Linked DNA regions of Homo sapiens: region 1 is linked to region 2. A link means that fine-mapping ties the variant in region 2 to the expression of a gene that starts in the linked region. Tissue or cell type: tibial artery. Region 2 holds a variant in brackets; the other region holds the start of a gene. All regions are shown on one strand. Distances are from middle to middle.

Region 1 (4,000 bases), 460 kb before region 2:
AACAAGAATAAGCCTTTGGCAGTTAATTTCTAATTTTAGATATATACATATGTATATATATAATTGTTCAAATATGTGATAATAGCCAAAAGAACAAAGATATACACAAGAGAAGAATCACTGAACAAAGGAAGAGCACACATCTATTCTCTCAAAATACGAAAGTCAGATGACAGTCTTCATCAGGTTTTTAAGAGGAGCAAATCAGTTAATACATGTGAAGCATATACAATATTGCTTGACACGTAGTAAGTGCTAAATAAACTGCAGATAATGAGAAACTCCAGAATAATGAGAATCGGGATATGAGTGGTAGTTGACACCCATCTTCCACAGCAGGATCAACAAGATCATTTCATTAACATCTCAATAATGCAGCCCCACATTTCAAATAGCTATATTTTAAAAGTCTTATTTATAGCATTATCATAGTTTTACTGTGTTCCTTTATTAATAACAATATTTGGGGTTTGTATAGCACCTCTGTACATAAGAGCTTAAAGAACTGTCATACATCTTGTCTTATCCCTATTACAGCGGTCAGGTATTTTTTTGTCCGTTTTACAGATGAGGAAATTGAGGGGTAGCAATGTCACCCAGCTAGCAGTAAGTGGCAAAAAGCCGTAAATTTCACGAACAGTTTCTTCTTTGTTAATGTGGATATAGTACTGAACAATGGTTACTATGGGGTATTAGATTCTACTGGTGGTCTAACAGCTTCCAATATTACTCTACCCAGCTTTGACTTCTAAAAATAGATCTCCAACCTAATAAATTGAATATTTCAAGTTCAATAATAAGATAACACAGGTAGGGTCCCCTTCAGGACTCATTGCATTCCTACTCAGGAGGCCTAAATCACTTGCACCTTTTCGAATTATATAGATCATTTACACTTGGGAAAGAAAGATAATAATTGCTTATCATGGATGAAGTACCCTATTTATAATACGCAGGCCGCCTGCCTGACACTTTCATATTACACCAGATTTAGAAGGACCCCACAGGGATGTGGTGTCACAGTCTGGTTACTGCAAATTGGTAATACTATAATTAAGCATCAGAGTTCTAAACACATATGTGTGCATGCATCTCCTCACAAATGTGAAAGAAAACTGTTTCAAGAAGTAAGGGAGAATGAATTTCACTTTGCAATAAGCAATTTTAAAATATAAGTATATTTTAGGATCGTCCTCAAATATTCTTTCCAAACAAGGCAACTCCCTCACATGGAAATCCCAAGGCAGAAATGTGCCAGAATTTTATTCTTTTCCTTTCTGTGACGAGAAACCAAACTAAAGCTTAAATAAACATATAATTGCACCCCCCGCAGGCTTGGAAACCTCCCTTACTTAAAACTCCGGCCCGAGACTGAGACAGGGGCCTAGAGAGTACATTGCAGCAAACGGCTCCATAAATAACCAGCCACACAATAGCAAGAAAAATAAACTGTTAACAAGCGCCTAAGGCTTCTACAGGGCCAAGTGAAAACAGAAAGCCGTCCAGTCACCGTCCCTACACAGTGAAATACCGTCACAGGTAATCTCGGGCACCATCTCTCTATTTTTGTATTCCTCTGGAAATAAAACCGCATTTACATGTACATTTTAGGTACATACATGGACCAAATGTTTATGACAGAGAAGTAGACAAAGCAGAGGAAGGAGAAGCAGCTGCACAGAGAGGGACAGAGGGAGCGAAGAGACAGAGACAGCGAGCTGTTTGCTACCTAATTCTAGCTCACAAACAAGGAAGCGCAGCCAATTCTCTTCGGCGATTCAGCGTTCCTCTCACCGCAGCTGGACAGATCTCGGCCTTTCTCTAATCACCATGGCAACTGCACCTCACCGCCACCGGAAATAAGATGCAGAGCCCTTCTCCAAACGATCCGGCTAGAAATCTAGGAAGCGCTGATCCGGAGCGCACAGAGACAGCTGTGTTGCTCCTCTATCGCGGGGGTGGTATGGCCAGAGTAGTGAGAGAAGGTGCTCTGTTACACCAGCAGGAAATAGGTGCTGTCCTGGGCCTAGAACTCCCCGCTCGCTCCTTTGCTCGCGCACACCCGGATCCTTCGTCGCGGGGAGGATGTTTCCGCCCGGCCGCGGTGGGCTTGACGCAACGTCCAGCGCGCGCTTTTCATGCCTTGGCGTTTCCTTTGGCGGATTTTCTGTTTTCGGAAGTTGCTGGGTTCGTTTTATTCAGCGGCAGTGGTGCTTTCCCGAATCTCAGAATGCCGTAGGTATCTCCTCCCCAGGTATTGCTGTTTTGGGGGCCCTCTGCAAGAAGAGAAGATATTATGTGGCCCAGTAGCCTTTCTCGTTTTCCTATTTTTTCGGAGTATGAACTTGTCTCCTCTGTCCACAGGCAATTCCCTTCGCTTGGTACCCTCAACTCTACGTCTCCTCCAGCGGTACTCATACGATAGTCCTCCTTCGCTTTCTGTTTCTACGATGCTTTTGACAGATTTCGTAAACTGTGGGCTGTATTTAGGTGATGTCTAACTTGAAATAACATAAATAAGGTTGACACACAGGATGGGACAGAGTAGATGAAAACACGCCTTCGTAGTTTGTCAGTCCCTTGCCTTCATTAATGTGGCGCGTTCGTGTAAACCCGTGGGAGAACTCATGGACTGAGTGGGTCTAGATACCTGGATTCCAGATAAGACTCTTTCACTGTTGGGCAAGTCACTTATCGACCCTGAGCTTCGTTTTTTTTTACTTACACAAATAAGTTTGTACTGCATGATCTCTAAATTCCCATCTATGACCAATAATCTGATTATTGAGAATGACCATAGTGGGAATAGGCATTGTGCTAGATAAGATTCATCTGTTTTTCATATCCTTCATCCATCCTATATTGAGATGCATAAAATAGTTGCTACCCTATAGAAACTTAAAAAAGCCATTAAAGGTTGGGGGAGTGGGGTGGATATCAAACACCTGTAATTTCTCCTTGGCCGTCCTTGTCCTCAGGTTGATTTAGGTACCCCCTCTAGTGTAACCTGTTCCTTAGTTTATTTCAGGATTAAGTAAAATGCAAAGTAACACAGCTGGGGAAATTTTTGTATCAAATAGGAATTGACATGAAAGGGGAAAGCTGTACAGAAATGATAACCTATATTTATTGAATCTTGAATTACAATGTGGGTGCTGTATTAATCAATTTATCTACGTTTTTTCATTGAATCCTAAAATACTTTAGGGGATGGGGGCTGCTATTATCTTTACAGATAAAGAAACCCATCACCTAATAGGGTGTTCAACACAGCTGCCAATAAATGCATGTTTTACTGATGCCCTTAAAAGTTATGGATTATTGAGGAGGTTTTCCTTTCCCCAGAATTAAGCAAAGAGACTTGTTTCCCTACTCTTGCATTAGAAAAATCATCCAGTTCTCAAATAAACAAAGCTGCAAAGATAATGTCACACAATCACACACACAAAATCCCTAAGAATACAGTGAAAACAGAGGTGTATTTGCCAAACAAGTGGTAATACCTCCTGAACTGTGTGTATCTGTGTATAGGAGTGGGGAACCAAAAAACTATGAAAAGTGGAACTTTTTTTTTCTTTTTTTGAGGCAGAGTCTGGCTCTGTTGCCCAGGCTGGAGTGCAGTGCTGTGATCACAGCTCACTGCAGCCTCTACCTCCTGGGCTCCCACATGCCACCATGCCTAATTTTTTTATTTTGTAAAGACAGTGTCTCCCTGTGTTGCCCAGCCTGGTCTTGAAGTCCTGGGCTTAAGTGATCCTTCCACCTCAGCCTCCCAATGTGCTGGGACTATAGGAGTTAGCCACTGTGTCAGGCCTAAAAGTGGACCTTTTTGACAACTGTCTTCCTAACATATGCACACAAGATGTTATATTAGGCTTTTAGATAAGTATATTCTGGTAATAAATACACAACCTTAAAGTTGAGGTTAACATCTCACATATATAGCTAATATATATGTGAAACTAGCAATTACTTTGCTAATTTTCTAAGTTTTAGCAAA
Region 2 (5,224 bases):
GGTGACCACTATTAGTCGCTCCTAATTAGGTAAATCTTAAAAGAGAGAAAGAGGGAGGTGGGGCAGGGAGGGAAGGAGAGAGAAAGGGAGAGAAAGAAAGAGAAAAACAGAGATTTGGCCAGGGATCCAAATTTAGATTAGAAAATTGGAATAAAGGATACAATAAGCTTGCAATGAATTGATCCTGATTGACTTTTTCCTTTGACAATTAGATTCTACATCACCATGGTGATTCTGCTTTTCCGAGGAAAAGACAAAGAAAATCTGTTTGGTAGGTCTGGGATAAGATAATATTTTCATATATTAGCTGTATTTTTTTTTAGCTATTTCATTATTTTCCGTGATACCTCTTCCTCATCCAACCAGATTGTTAAGTAAGGTTGGCTGCAGAAGAAAAGAGGAAAAAAGGTTTTTTTAACTTGTGGTAAAATATTCATAACATAAAATTTACCATTTTACCCATTTTTAAGTGTACAGCTCTATGGCATTAAGTACTTTCACATTGTTGTGCAAAAGTTCTCCAGAACATGCTCATCTTCCCAAACCAAAACTGTGTAACCATTAAAGATGAACTCCCCATTCCCTTCCCCAACTGGCAGCCGCCATTCTACTGTCTGTCTTATGCATTTGACCACTCTAGGTACTTCGTGGAAGTGGAATCATATAATATTTGTCCTTTTATATGTGGCTCATTTAACTTAGCATAATGTTTTCAAGAGTCATCTATGTTGTAGCATCTGTCAGAGTTTTCTTCCTTTTTAAAGCTAAATAAATCCACTGTATGTATGGACCATATTTCGTTGTTCCATTCAGCCATCAATGAACATTTGATTTGCTTCTACCTTTTGGCTCTTGTGAATAATGCTATTGTGAACATGGGTGTACAAATAGCTGTTTGAGTCCTTGTGTTCACTTCTTCTGGGTATATGCCCAGAAGTGGAATTGCTGGACTATATGGTATAATTTTTTAAGGAATCACCATAGTAGCTTTTTGTTTGTTTGCTCGTTTTTTGAGATGGAATCTCACTCTGTCACCCAGGCTGGAGTGCAATGGTGCAATCTTGGCTCACTACAACCTACACCTCCTGGGTTCAAGCGATTCTCCTGCCTCAGCCTCCCAAGTTGCTGGGACTACAGGCATGTACCAACACACCTGGCTAATTTTTGTATTTTAGTAGAGAGGGGGTTTCGCCATGTTGCCCAGGCTGGTCTTGAACTCCTGGCCCTAAGTGATCCGCCCGCCTTGTCCTCCCAAAGTGCTGGGATTACCAGCATGAGCCACCGCGCCTGGCCAGGAATCACCATACTAGTTTTCACAGTGCTTGTAACATTTTACATTCCCACCAACAACGCACAAGCATTCCAATTTCTCCACATTATTGCCAGCACTTCTTATTTTCTGTTTTTGTTTTGTTGCTGCTGTTGTTTGGGATAATAGCCATCCTGAGATATGTGACATGACATCTCATTGTGGTTTTGATTTGTATTTTCCTCATTACTAGGGGTGCTAAGCATCTTTTCATGTATTTATTGGCCACCTATATATCTTCTCTGGAGGAAAAAAGTTGTTTGAATTTCAAAAGTTTAGTCTTTGGAGTAGCAAAATTCTTAGGGGTTGCAAAAGAGGGGTTGTGATAAAGGTAATTAGAATAAGCTGAGTTAGGCAAACTGGATGGACTAGAGGAGAGAGATTCCATGGTCAGGCAAGAGCATTCAACAAGGATGTGTGCCCTAGAGAATGGGCCTCTGCCCTGCCACCCACCTCCCCAAGGCAGAAACTCTGGAGGGAGGGGGAATGGAAACCCCAGATAGGTTTGGGGGGAATTCAAAAGCAGAGATAACCTGTGCTCAATTTGCCAGTAGTGGAGAGTTCAGACCTCAGATGACATGAAACAGTAGGTAGACTCAGCTGAATGGGCATCTGGCAGATAGATGGGAGATAACTACATAGAGGGCGCTACAAGAGAGCAGCAAAATGCCCTCTTCCTGCTCTGAGAAACAGTGGTCCTGCAGGAGGACCCTGCAGTGATCTGGATGGGTAGATGACCCGACAAGCGATGACATTTCAGTGAATGCTAGTATAGATAGGTGACTACCGAGAATATGACAGTCCCCTCTCCAGCTGCAGGGCCTTACTCCTACATAAACCCCTGGAACAAGAATGCAACCTCAAGGAAACACGAAGAGGAATTCTGTACTGTCCAAGATTAAGAGTTTGACCCCTGACAGATGGAGGATTGTAACAGAAATATACCTTATTAATGAAAACATAAAGGATCTATCATGCATGTTTGAGTTTGAAGGCTATGAGTCATATCTCCTAGAGGTCAAGTACAGAAGTCATTGCCACAGGCTGGAGAAGCAATTGGACTCTATGTCCAAGAGAGGAATAAGAGAATAGACACCAATGAAGTGGCTCACGGAGTAGCAAAAGTGGGTTAATAATGAAGATATTATTCCCCCATTTTAAAGTACTTTTAAGTTTCAAGGCGCCTTTGATTTGTTACCTGATTTGGTTGTCAACCTTGTGAGATGATAGAAAGA[A/G]GCAGGTTTTATTATCATCCCTATTTTACAAACGAAGACACTGAAGCAGGTTTTCTGTCTTGACACTACTGACATTTGGGGCCTAACAATTGTTTGTCAGGGGACCTGTCCTGTGCATTATGGGATGTTGGGCAGCATCCTTGGCCTCTACCCACTAGATACCAGTAGCACCCCCCAGTGGTGACAACAAAAATGTCTCTAGACATGACCAAATACCACACCTCGTATCCTGCATCCACCTACCTCCCCAAGTAGGGAACCACTGAACAAGAACAAGGATCAGGACTTGACCCCAGTATCCTGACTCCTAGTTCAGAGTGCATGGGAGAAATTCAGCGCCCCTTCCCCACCCCCAGGTCCAACCTGCCATTGCACCAACGTGCCCAAAACCACGTTAAAATGGTCTCCTAACATTTTATTGCTGAAAGGGACTAAGATTCATCCCTGCCTTTTCAATTTACATGTGAAAACACTGAGCTTCAGAAAGTTTCAGTTATTTGTTGAAGAACATGAAGCTGGTGTCGGAGGACGCTGGTACTTAAACCTGGGTATCCTATCTCGAATTCAGGGTTTGACATACTATCTCATTGCCGAGAGCCAACATTGGTTCAGAAATGCTCCAGAACAGACTTGGGAAGAAAAGCAGGATATTTCCTGGTTAGCTGTCCCTCTATAAAGGGCTATTTTTAGTAAAATGGGGGGAAATCAGCATTCAGCTCAATTGAAAATACATCTGGCATTAATTCATTGTTAATTGACCAGGATGAGTAAAAAGATGGCTACTTCCAAGGCCTCTCTAATGGAACTATTAGTGAATTTTCAGGTCAACTAACTCCTGTCACTGCCTGACAAGGGAAATGGCAATCATTTGCCAGTGTTAGCAAGGCTCTCACTGCCCTGGAAAATGGGAATCAGTCATCCTGGGCTGTCAGGTTCCCTATCTCCATGTGTAATGCCCCACCCCCCTCCCCTCCACCCCTGAGACCCTTACCTTCCCTTGAATGGCCTCAGGTTTGCCCTAAATGTGAGTAACTTTTGCCAGGTCTAAAGAGCTTTCATTGAAATCTGGAATGGTCCTTCACACAATGCTGTAGTTTGGCAAATACTATTATCACTCCCATTTACTAATGTGGAAACTAAACTCAGGCAGTTGCTTGACTTGTCAAAGTTCTCACAAATGGCAAGTGCCAAGGCAAGGTTTCAAACCTGGGAGTCCAGCAACAAATCCCATGCCATTTCTTCTGGTGGCTTTATTCTGCGCCATCATCTGCCCCTTGTCTCCTCACTTGGCTTGTTTTTCTCTTTTTTAGACAGAGTTTTGCTCTTGTTGCCCAGGCTGGAGTGCAGTGGCATGGTTTCAGCTCACCGCAACCTCCGCCTCCCAGGTTCAAGCGATTCTCCTGCCTCAGCCTCCCAAGTAGCTGGGATTACAGCACCCACCACCATGCCCGGCTAATTTTTGTATTTTTAGTAGAGATGGGGTTTCACCATGTTGGCCAGGCTGGTCTCAATCTCCTGACTTCATGATCCACATGCCTCGGCCTCCCAAAGTGCTGAGATTACAGGCATGAGCCACCACACTGGGCTGCCGCTTCTTTTTCCCTATACATTTTTCCTTCTTTCAAAGGCTAAAAGGCTGGAGAGTTGGGTGTTTGGATAAATGGGAAACCATTTCAATTACTACAACAAACTCAACAAATATTTATTGAGGATCTACTATGTTCCAGGAACTCTGTTAGGTGCTAAAGATGTATGATCCATAAGCTAGAGCCCCAAATCCTCAGTATGGCTTTTAAGGCCCACCATAATTTAGTCCTAACTTACCTTTCTAGCCTCATCTCGAGCCACTGCTTGTCATACAACCTACACTTCAACTGTACTAAAATAATGTTCACTCTTCAAACATGCCATGAGTGCCTACCCTCCCTATCTCTCTTTACATTCTCTTTCTCTCTGCATGTGCTGTTTTCTCTCTCTGGGATGTCCTTCTCCCGCCACTATCTGGTGAACTTCTATTCTTACATCAAGGCCCTTTCAGATGTCACCTCCTCTATAAAAGCTTCCCTGTTTTTCATGGCAAAGCTGGTCAGTTGCACCTCTTTTTTGCTATGATTATTTATTTATACTTCTATTATAAGGTGTTCAGACTGTATTGTAATTATTTATATCCATGTCTGAATCACATGCATTGTGATGGTTACTTTTATATGTCAACTTGACTGGGCTAGGGATACCCAGATAGCTGGTAAAACATGATTTCTGGGTGTGCCTGTGAGGGTGGTCCTGGAAGAGATTAGCATTTGGATTGGTAGACTCACTACATTGCCGTCCCCAATGTGCACGGGCATCATTCAACCCACTGGTAGCCTGAATAGAACAAAAGGTAGAGGAAGCCTGAATCTTCTATCTCTTTGAGCTGGGACGTCTCTCTTCTCCTGCCCTTGGACGTCATCAGCACTCCTGCTTCTCAGTCTTCAGACTCAGATCAGGCCTTATATCATCAGCTCCCCTAGTTTTCAGACCTCTGGACTTGGACTGAATTACACCAATAGCTTTCCTCGTTCTGCAGCTCACAGATGGCAGATTGTAGGATTTCTTGGCCTCCATAATTGAGTGCCAATTCCCCAAATAAATCCCCATACATATATATATGTATAAATATAAGTATAATATTAGTTCT

Evidence for each region. PIP is the estimated chance that this variant, and not a neighbour inherited with it, causes the effect.
Region 1: ITGB3BP starts here. The variant in region 2 is fine-mapped to the expression of ITGB3BP in tibial artery (GTEx, PIP above 0.99).

What each region holds. Positions count from the first base shown.
Region 1 is chr1:63,521,364-63,525,363 of GRCh38, reverse strand. ITGB3BP (integrin subunit beta 3 binding protein) reads left to right here and starts at 2,139. Exons shown (of 9, transcript NM_014288.5): 1 at 2,139-2,235. The coding sequence starts at 2,231. EFCAB7 (EF-hand calcium binding domain 7) reads right to left here and starts at 1,839. Exons shown (of 14, transcript NM_032437.4): 1 at 1,730-1,839. RefSeq lists enhancers at 1,876-1,955, 2,117-2,740.
Region 2 is chr1:63,061,054-63,066,277 of GRCh38, reverse strand. No RefSeq gene overlaps it. Among named protein-coding and RNA genes, the nearest start is that of LINC01739, 51 kb to the right of the region's middle. The variant A/G (reference allele first, on the strand shown) is at 2,545.